2 linked regions of the Homo sapiens genome follow. The protein of the gene in region 2 interacts with the protein of the main gene of each other region in a pairwise test. Each region holds a gene or a part of one and is shown on either strand. Other genes may lie near its edges.

The links. Proteins that work in one complex are often made in the same cells at the same time.
Region 1: the proteins of HPCAL4 (region 2) and F3 interact in binary tests that used the Homo sapiens proteins (3 or more experiments, as listed by UniProt).

Annotation. Positions count from the first base shown.
Region 1 is NC_000001.11:94,535,123-94,538,773, forward strand, and holds part of F3 (tissue factor isoform 1 precursor), read right to left. Parts: intron 1,043-3,651; coding exon 843-1,042; intron 1-842. UniProt on the Homo sapiens protein: Initiates blood coagulation by forming a complex with circulating factor VII or VIIa. The [TF:VIIa] complex activates factors IX or X by specific limited proteolysis.
Region 2 is NC_000001.11:39,681,314-39,684,964, forward strand, and holds part of HPCAL4 (hippocalcin-like protein 4), read right to left. Parts: intron 3,299-3,651; 5' UTR 3,291-3,298; coding exon 3,129-3,290; intron 2,840-3,128; coding exon 2,624-2,839; intron 1,421-2,623; coding exon 1,223-1,420; 3' UTR 1-1,222. UniProt on the Homo sapiens protein: May be involved in the calcium-dependent regulation of rhodopsin phosphorylation.

The sequences.
Region 1 (3,651 bases), about 55 Mb from region 2:
TTTCACCATTCCTACCTTGAGAAACTGTTCTCTCTCGCTGGGCCTAACACTCACACAACACCTTCATTCTAACCAGCTGGCCTTACAAGAGAAGCTAATTTCACTCTACTCAATGTGCTACATGCATTTATCTAAATTGCCTAGCTCAGAGCCACAGTTGCGGCAAAAGAATAAATCTCCTACTTGACAGGAATTCTCTTCATTCTTTTACTGGCTCCTAGGGCCAGCTTACAGGGGCAAAGGCTGAGGAGGAAAGTATTCCACCTTTCCAAAACCAGAACGAGGGTGACAGGCAGATGGCTGGGCAGGTGCTGGCACATCACGGAACTCAAATCATGGCCAACTGATTAGAAAAGGTCAGCATAATTAGGCTAATTATGGGCTCAGAGGGAAACCATGGACTTTCCTCATTGATTTATGACCGTTTGGGAAAAATCCTCAACTGGGATTTTTAGTGTGATAACGGGACAGAAAAATCAGGATACATGATATATATATAGGGAAAAGCTAAAACCCCGGCCTTGGTGGATTTCCTATCCCTACCCGCTTCCCTGGCCCGCCCTCTCCCAACACACATTCAGCCGGTTACTGAGGACAGTAACAGGGTCTGGGGACAGACTGGGGGAGAAAGTTACTTGATGACACTGTCATCAGCTCCAAAGTTCACATTCTGTGAACCTCCTACCACATCTGGAATGTGTGAAGAGGGCTGTGATACATACCAGTTTCTGAGAAAAAAAGAATAAATATTTTTAATTTTGTAGCCCCTAAAGGCACAAGATCACGAGAATGTTCAGACGTTTCTAACAAGAATGAACGGTATTACAGCCCAAGCCACTTACTCTCCAGGTAAGGTGTGAACTCTGGGGAGTTCTCATACAGAGGCTCCCCAGCAGAACCGGTGCTCTCCACATTCCCTGCCGGGTAGGAGAAGACCCGTGCCAAGTACGTCTGCTTCACATCCTTCACAATCTCGTCGGTGAGGTCACACTCTGTGTCTGTTGTGTAAAAGCATTTGCTTTTCCAATCTCCTGACTTAGTGCTAAAGAAAGAAAAGAAGGAAGAAACATAAATGGAATGTTACAATTTGCACCCAACAAGATAGACTGCTTCCTGGCTGTGGTGTTCTGTGCTAACATCAGGAGCCCTACAATCAATCCTAATGATGCAGTCACTGTGCTGAGCACTTTGCTTTTTTTTAAACATTGTTTTGTAGAGATGGGGTCCTGCTATGTTGCCCAGGCTGATCCTTCTGCTTCGGCCTCCCAAAGTGCTGAATGTACAGGTGTGAGCCATCATACCTAGCAACACCGAGCACTTGGGATGCATGTTTGAGTCCTCATAGCAACCCAGGGGATGGCTCTGTAATTTGCCTTGTTTTTACAAATAAGGCTACTGAGACAAAGTGAGATTGGGTGACTAGCTCAAAATCACACAGCTGGACTTTGAACCAGACAGCTATTTGACTCTTGGATCTGTACTCAACCATTTTGTTAAATATCTTTCTTTTAGAATGTAGACGCTCTCTGTCAGGGTAACAGGAGAGAAAGAGCAGTTTTCCATCAAGATGAGGCAACTGAGACAAAGTGAGGTTGTTTACTATAGTCTACTTATTATAGTTGTTTGTTATATAATGTTCTATATTCTATGTAGAATAGAGTCTATATAGTGAGTCTACATAATAACATGTTATACATATATTCTCTCATGACCACTATTAATAATATTATTAATCATTCATTGACTCCACTATATGCCAGGTATTCTGCTGGACCCTTTACTCATGTTACTTCATTTGATATAATCCTTCCAAGAAGGTGTTGGATCTTTCTTATCCATGAGGACACTGAAGCTCACAGGCACTAAGCAACTTGCAGAAGGTCACATATCTAACGAGTGGCAGAGCTGGGTCTGTTTGCCCCATTATACTACATGCCTCCCTTCCTTTGCAAGATGTGAATCCATCCCAACAAAGATTACAGAATAAGAGTACAGGTAGTATCTGTCTAATAAAGTCTGAGACTAAAAAGCTAAAGACAGATCTTTCTTTTGTGAGACGTCACTGAAGGGGAAATGATTTAAAGGACTTCTACTGACAATGAAATTCTTCTAAATGACCAAAATAATAAATAGGTGAAGCGTCACTGCAACTTGATTCACACACTTCTGTCCCATGGAAAGTGACAGTTATGCTGCTCTTCCCTTTGGCATTACTGACTGCCAGAGCCAGACCCATCGTTCAAGGCCAGGTCCCAACTCCACCTGCTCCAGGAATCTCCAGATCTCCCTGCTGAGCATTTACATCTCCCTCCCCTGTCCCCCAGCATGAGTTTCTCCACGATGCTGTTAATATGAACACAGTCTGCCTGGTACGAGGGCTGCATGCCCTTGTGTGCCCCCATTAAGCAGCAGGGCTATAGGGTCTCGCTGACTATTAGATGGTTTGCATTTACAGGTTGAATTAATACATAATCTCAGGGAAAACGAGGCACCACATGGATTCCATTGTCTAAATTCACACATAAAAGCCACAAATATATTTTCTTTCAAAATCTGAACTAAGTAACCAGGCCAAAAGGATTTGGGTAAACACATTCTTTATCCTAAAGTGCACAAACTAAGATTGATACTGAAATATTTTGGTTTCTATTTATTTAATTTTATGTGATAAAAGTAGAGAGGGTATTTTGTTCCCGAATGACCAAAATGTGTTTTATTTTATCATTTCCATTTCAAAAAGTGAATGAGACTATGCTGTTTCCTTTTTATCAGTACAGCAAATAGTTGTTCAGATAACAGGAGAAAGTCTCCTAGGGCTTTCTATGTAACATAGAGATACAGTATTTGGTTCCTCCCAGCTCACAGCAGGGACCACATACTCTATAGCAAAATTTAGCACAAGGATTTATACAGTACCCTGGTAAGTAGTAAAACTGTATAAACAGGTAATGAAGGGACAATTCTGTAGAAAATCCCTCTGAATGCCATTAATAGCATTAACACTTTAAAAGCCTCCAAGGTTCCTCCAGGCATTGCAAAACCCTCTGATTTGGAATTTTGAGTTAACTAAAAAATTCAGTCACTAATTTGGTTGCAGGTTGTTTTCCAGAAGCTTTGTAAATTCAGCTTTAGAATTCAGAACATTTCCATGGAATGAATATCACCGGTGACGGTTTGTGCTAAGGCTTAAGCCAATAACATTTCCCAACCACCACTGAAAACTGTTAGCAAAGGTGAAAAATGCAGTTGGAGTTCCAAGTAGGGGCTTCTGCACAGCAGTAGTGTCCTGCGGCTGGAGCCAGGCTGCAGTAGTGAGAGCAGTCGGGAGGGAAGAGGGGCAGCTGCTTAAGATGCTAACTGTAGGGAGGGAAAACAGGCAGAGAGGAAGGCCAACTGAGGAGATGCAGTGGGCAAGACTTTCCTTCTTCCTCCCGCTTTGGAGCCTCCCATCAGACTGTGGCAGAGCCACCTGAGGGATGGTGGTGTGTGGATACTGGGTAGACTTTGGTTCCAGACCTGACATGGGCACTCACCATCAGTGTAGTCATGAATAAATCCCTCACTTCTCAGAGCAACAGTTTCCTCAACTGTAAAATGACTGCTCTGGTCCTTTTTAACCAGGAATCTCATTTATTCCTGGGGTGGGCAGGA
Region 2 (3,651 bases):
CTCTTTCTGATTCTGTGGCAGTGAAGGAACAAGTCCAGTTCTGAAACTAAACCCAATCCAGAAACGAACTACCAAGATACGGAATATACACTAGTTTCACTCTTTGCAAACCTTGCTTTTTCCTGTCCCTGAAGTCAGCACCCAACCGGAGTAAGTATGTAGCAGAAAGTTGCTTGTTGAATTGAAAAAGGTAATAAAAAGGAAGAGCTGAAGCAGCAAAAACTGCTGAGAGTGGCAGCTCAGGACTTAGTCTTAAAAAGTGTTATCTGGTAAATTTCATGGTCTTTTCTCCCTTTCTTCTCAGGTTTTTTCCCCTTGAAAATTAATATTTTCTCTATTCATTTAATCATTTTATAAGAAACCAAGTAATATAGAGTATATTTTAACCTCCTGAAATAATAAAATGACTGTAGCTCCTTTAAAGGGTACTAAAAAAATAAGTATGACATAAATTTCATTTTTCTTAAAACTTTCACTCACGTGGCTCCTAAACTTCCAAATGCTTTTCATTTCGTCCTTCTGCAGCTTTGTGTGGAGCTGAGCTGGAAGATGAAATAGCTCCTCCCAGACTAACCAGCCTTCCAGCACCTTCTGCTTAGCTGAGACCCTGACGGCTGGAAGTTTGCCTCACAACCCTATGAGCTTCCAGAGGGCACAAGATGTGTCTTGTAAATGACCATATCCTTAGCACCAAACAGGTGCTCAGTAATCATTAGCTGAAGAAAGGACTGAATGAACGCTCCAAAGGCTGGGGCTGGAAGGGCCAGGTAGAGTAGAAGGGATGGGGAAGAGACCCCCTTTATGGGATCTGGAGCCTCAGGAATGGACAGACCCAATTTGGCCCTGTGACAGGCCTGTGGGACCACATCCTATAAAGCATAATCCCAGGATCAAGAGAATTCCTAACCAGAACCCCAGGCCCCCAACTCCTTAACCTCACCTCCTGGGGCAAAAGCCAACTCCCCTATGCCCAATGGACATTGGTTCTGGCCAAGTGGGAGGTGGGGCTAGAAGACAGGGTACTGGAGGACCTGTCTCTTTTGCAGGGTGAGGTGGTCCCTCAAAGATCTTGATGGAGGGGAGGAAGGGCTTGGGCAGAGGACTGGGTGGGCCAGAGAGGGGGGCTGGAGTGTCCCTCCTCCTGGGAGGCCAGCCAGAGAGGTCATCAGGTTGGGAGGTGGCCATGCCCCTTCTGGCCAGGGACCCTGCCCCTCACCAGCTTCTACTTCTGCATGTCACACTGCAGCAGCAACACAATGGATGGGTCACTCTTGGCTGCCTCCTTGAACTCCTCCAATGTAATCTGGTCGTCCTTATCCTGGTCCATCTTCTTGAAGATCTTGTCCACACGCTGCTGGGGCGTGAGCCCGTCCTGGTTCATGCGCATCATGATCACGGTGCCCACCATCTTGTAGATTGCCTGGTGAGGGAAGGAGGAGGGAGGTGTGAACACCCACAAGGGGCCCCGAGAAGCAGCGGGTGAAGGAAAGGGATCTGGCAGGGAGAACACTGGGGGTTGGTGAGGATACTGGAAGGTATATGTGGTCATTAAGACTGGATATTTAATGAGCAACTCTTTTTTTTTTTGAAACAGAGTTTCGATCTTGTTGCCCAGGATGGAGTGCAATGGCGCGATCTCGGCTTACTGCAACCTCTGCCTCCTGGGTTCAAGTGATTTTCCTGCTTCAGCCTCCTGAGTAGCTGGGATTACAGGCATGCACCAACACGTCCCGCTAATTTTTGTATTTTTAGTAGAGACGGGGTTTCACCATGTTGACCGGGTTGGTCTCGAACTCATTACCTCAGGTAATCCACCGGCCTCACCCTCCCAAAGTGCTAGGATTACAGGCGTGAGCCACCACGCCCAGCCCTCAACTAATTTTTTATTTAGACTAAATAATATTTATGTGGATGAAACATGCCAGAAGCCCAACTCCGTGGAGACCTTACTGATGGGGCTCCTGGCTCCCCGTATGACCACCTTCCTATCACTCTCTCCCTCTCATGGCTCTCCCACCACCGGGCCTCCTGGCCCCTCCTTGAACTCTGCAGAGAAAGGCCGACCTGCCTTAATTGCCCCTCAGCATGGAACGCTTTCCCCCAGGCATCTTGCAGTAAAGGCCTCACCCCATTCAGGCTGCTGCTAACTTTCCATCTTATATAAAGTAACTTCTCCATCACGCGCTCTCCCTGCACTTTGCTTAGTGTATCTTCCTCATAGCACCTACGGCCTGACCCCGCATGTCTTCATTCATTTATTTTTTAAAAAAATTTCTCACTAGAAGGAATGCCCCATGAAAGCAAGAACTGGCAGGCGCTCAATCCCTGCCTGTTGACAGAATGAGTTGAAAACATCAGCTATGAGGTCAGACTCCCTGGATTGGAATCAGGAACCCGGCCGTTTCCTCCTCTGCCAAATGGGGTTTGGGACAGTAACCAACCCCTCCGCCCCGTCGAGTGTCGGGTAAAGCATTTAGCCCGGGCCTGTAGCGGGGTGGTAGGAGGCGGGATCGCAGGCTGGGGAGCAGCAGGGAGGCCCCGAAGCCCGAGAGCAGCGCGGAGGCAGGGGCGGGGATGGCGAAGCGCTGGCCTCGGGAACAGCAGCGCCCGCGCGGCCCCGCACCTCGATGATCTCCAGCATCTCCAGGCGCGTGATGCGCCCGTCGCCGTCCAGGTCGTACATCTCAAAGGCCCAGTTGAGCTTCTGCTCGAAGCTGCCGCGGGAGGTGACCGACAGGGCGCAGATGAACTCCCGGAAGTCGATGGTGCCGTCGCCGTTCTTGTCGAAGGTGCGGAAAGCGTGCTGCGCGAACTTGGAGGCGTCGCCGTAGGGGAAGAACTGAGGGGGGTGCGGTGGGTTGGGGCGCAGCGACAGCCCCGCCCACCCCGCCCCCATCTCAGGGAACCTCCCCTGCACCCCGGGTGCCTCGCCTCCTCCCACCCCGGGTGCCTTGCCCCCGCCACCCCGGGTGCCTCACCTCCCCCGCACCCCGGGTGCCTCGCCTCCCCTCCCACCCCGGGTGCCTCGCCTCTTCTCATCCCAGGGTGCCCTGCCTCCCTCACCCCCGGTTCCTCGCCTCCCCCAACCCGGGTACTTGGCTCCCTCACACCAGGTGCCGGCCGCCCACCTTGATGTAGAGCTGCTGAAACTCCTCCAGGTTGAGGATGCCGCTGGGGCAGTCCTTCAGGAAGCCCTTGTACCACTGCTTCAGCTCCTGCTCGCTGAACTCAGTGTTCTGAACAAGGTCCTCCAGCACCTCGGGGGCCAGCTTGCTGTTGGTCTTCCCCATGGCGGGGCCTGTGGGACAGAGGGATTCCTCCGACTGGGTCCAGGGAAAGGCCCTGCCTCAGCCACAGCTGCCCCCTCCCCTGCCACACACAGGGCGGGGTTGCAGGTTCCTTCCCCTCATGACACTCCCCCATAATGGGGCCTCCTCTCCCCTCACAACACCTGCATTCAGGTAGGTTTCTTCTCCTAGCCCCGGGGGTCTCCCGCCTTCCAGGTCTCAGCTCTCCTCCTCACTGACCGTGCAGCACGCCACAGTCTTCATCCTCTCCCCTCCTGCTCACACCTTTCATGGCTCCCCTGCCCACAGACTAAGGCCTTGACTCCTCTCCTTGCCATTTAGGGCTTTCTGAAGTCAGCCCCCA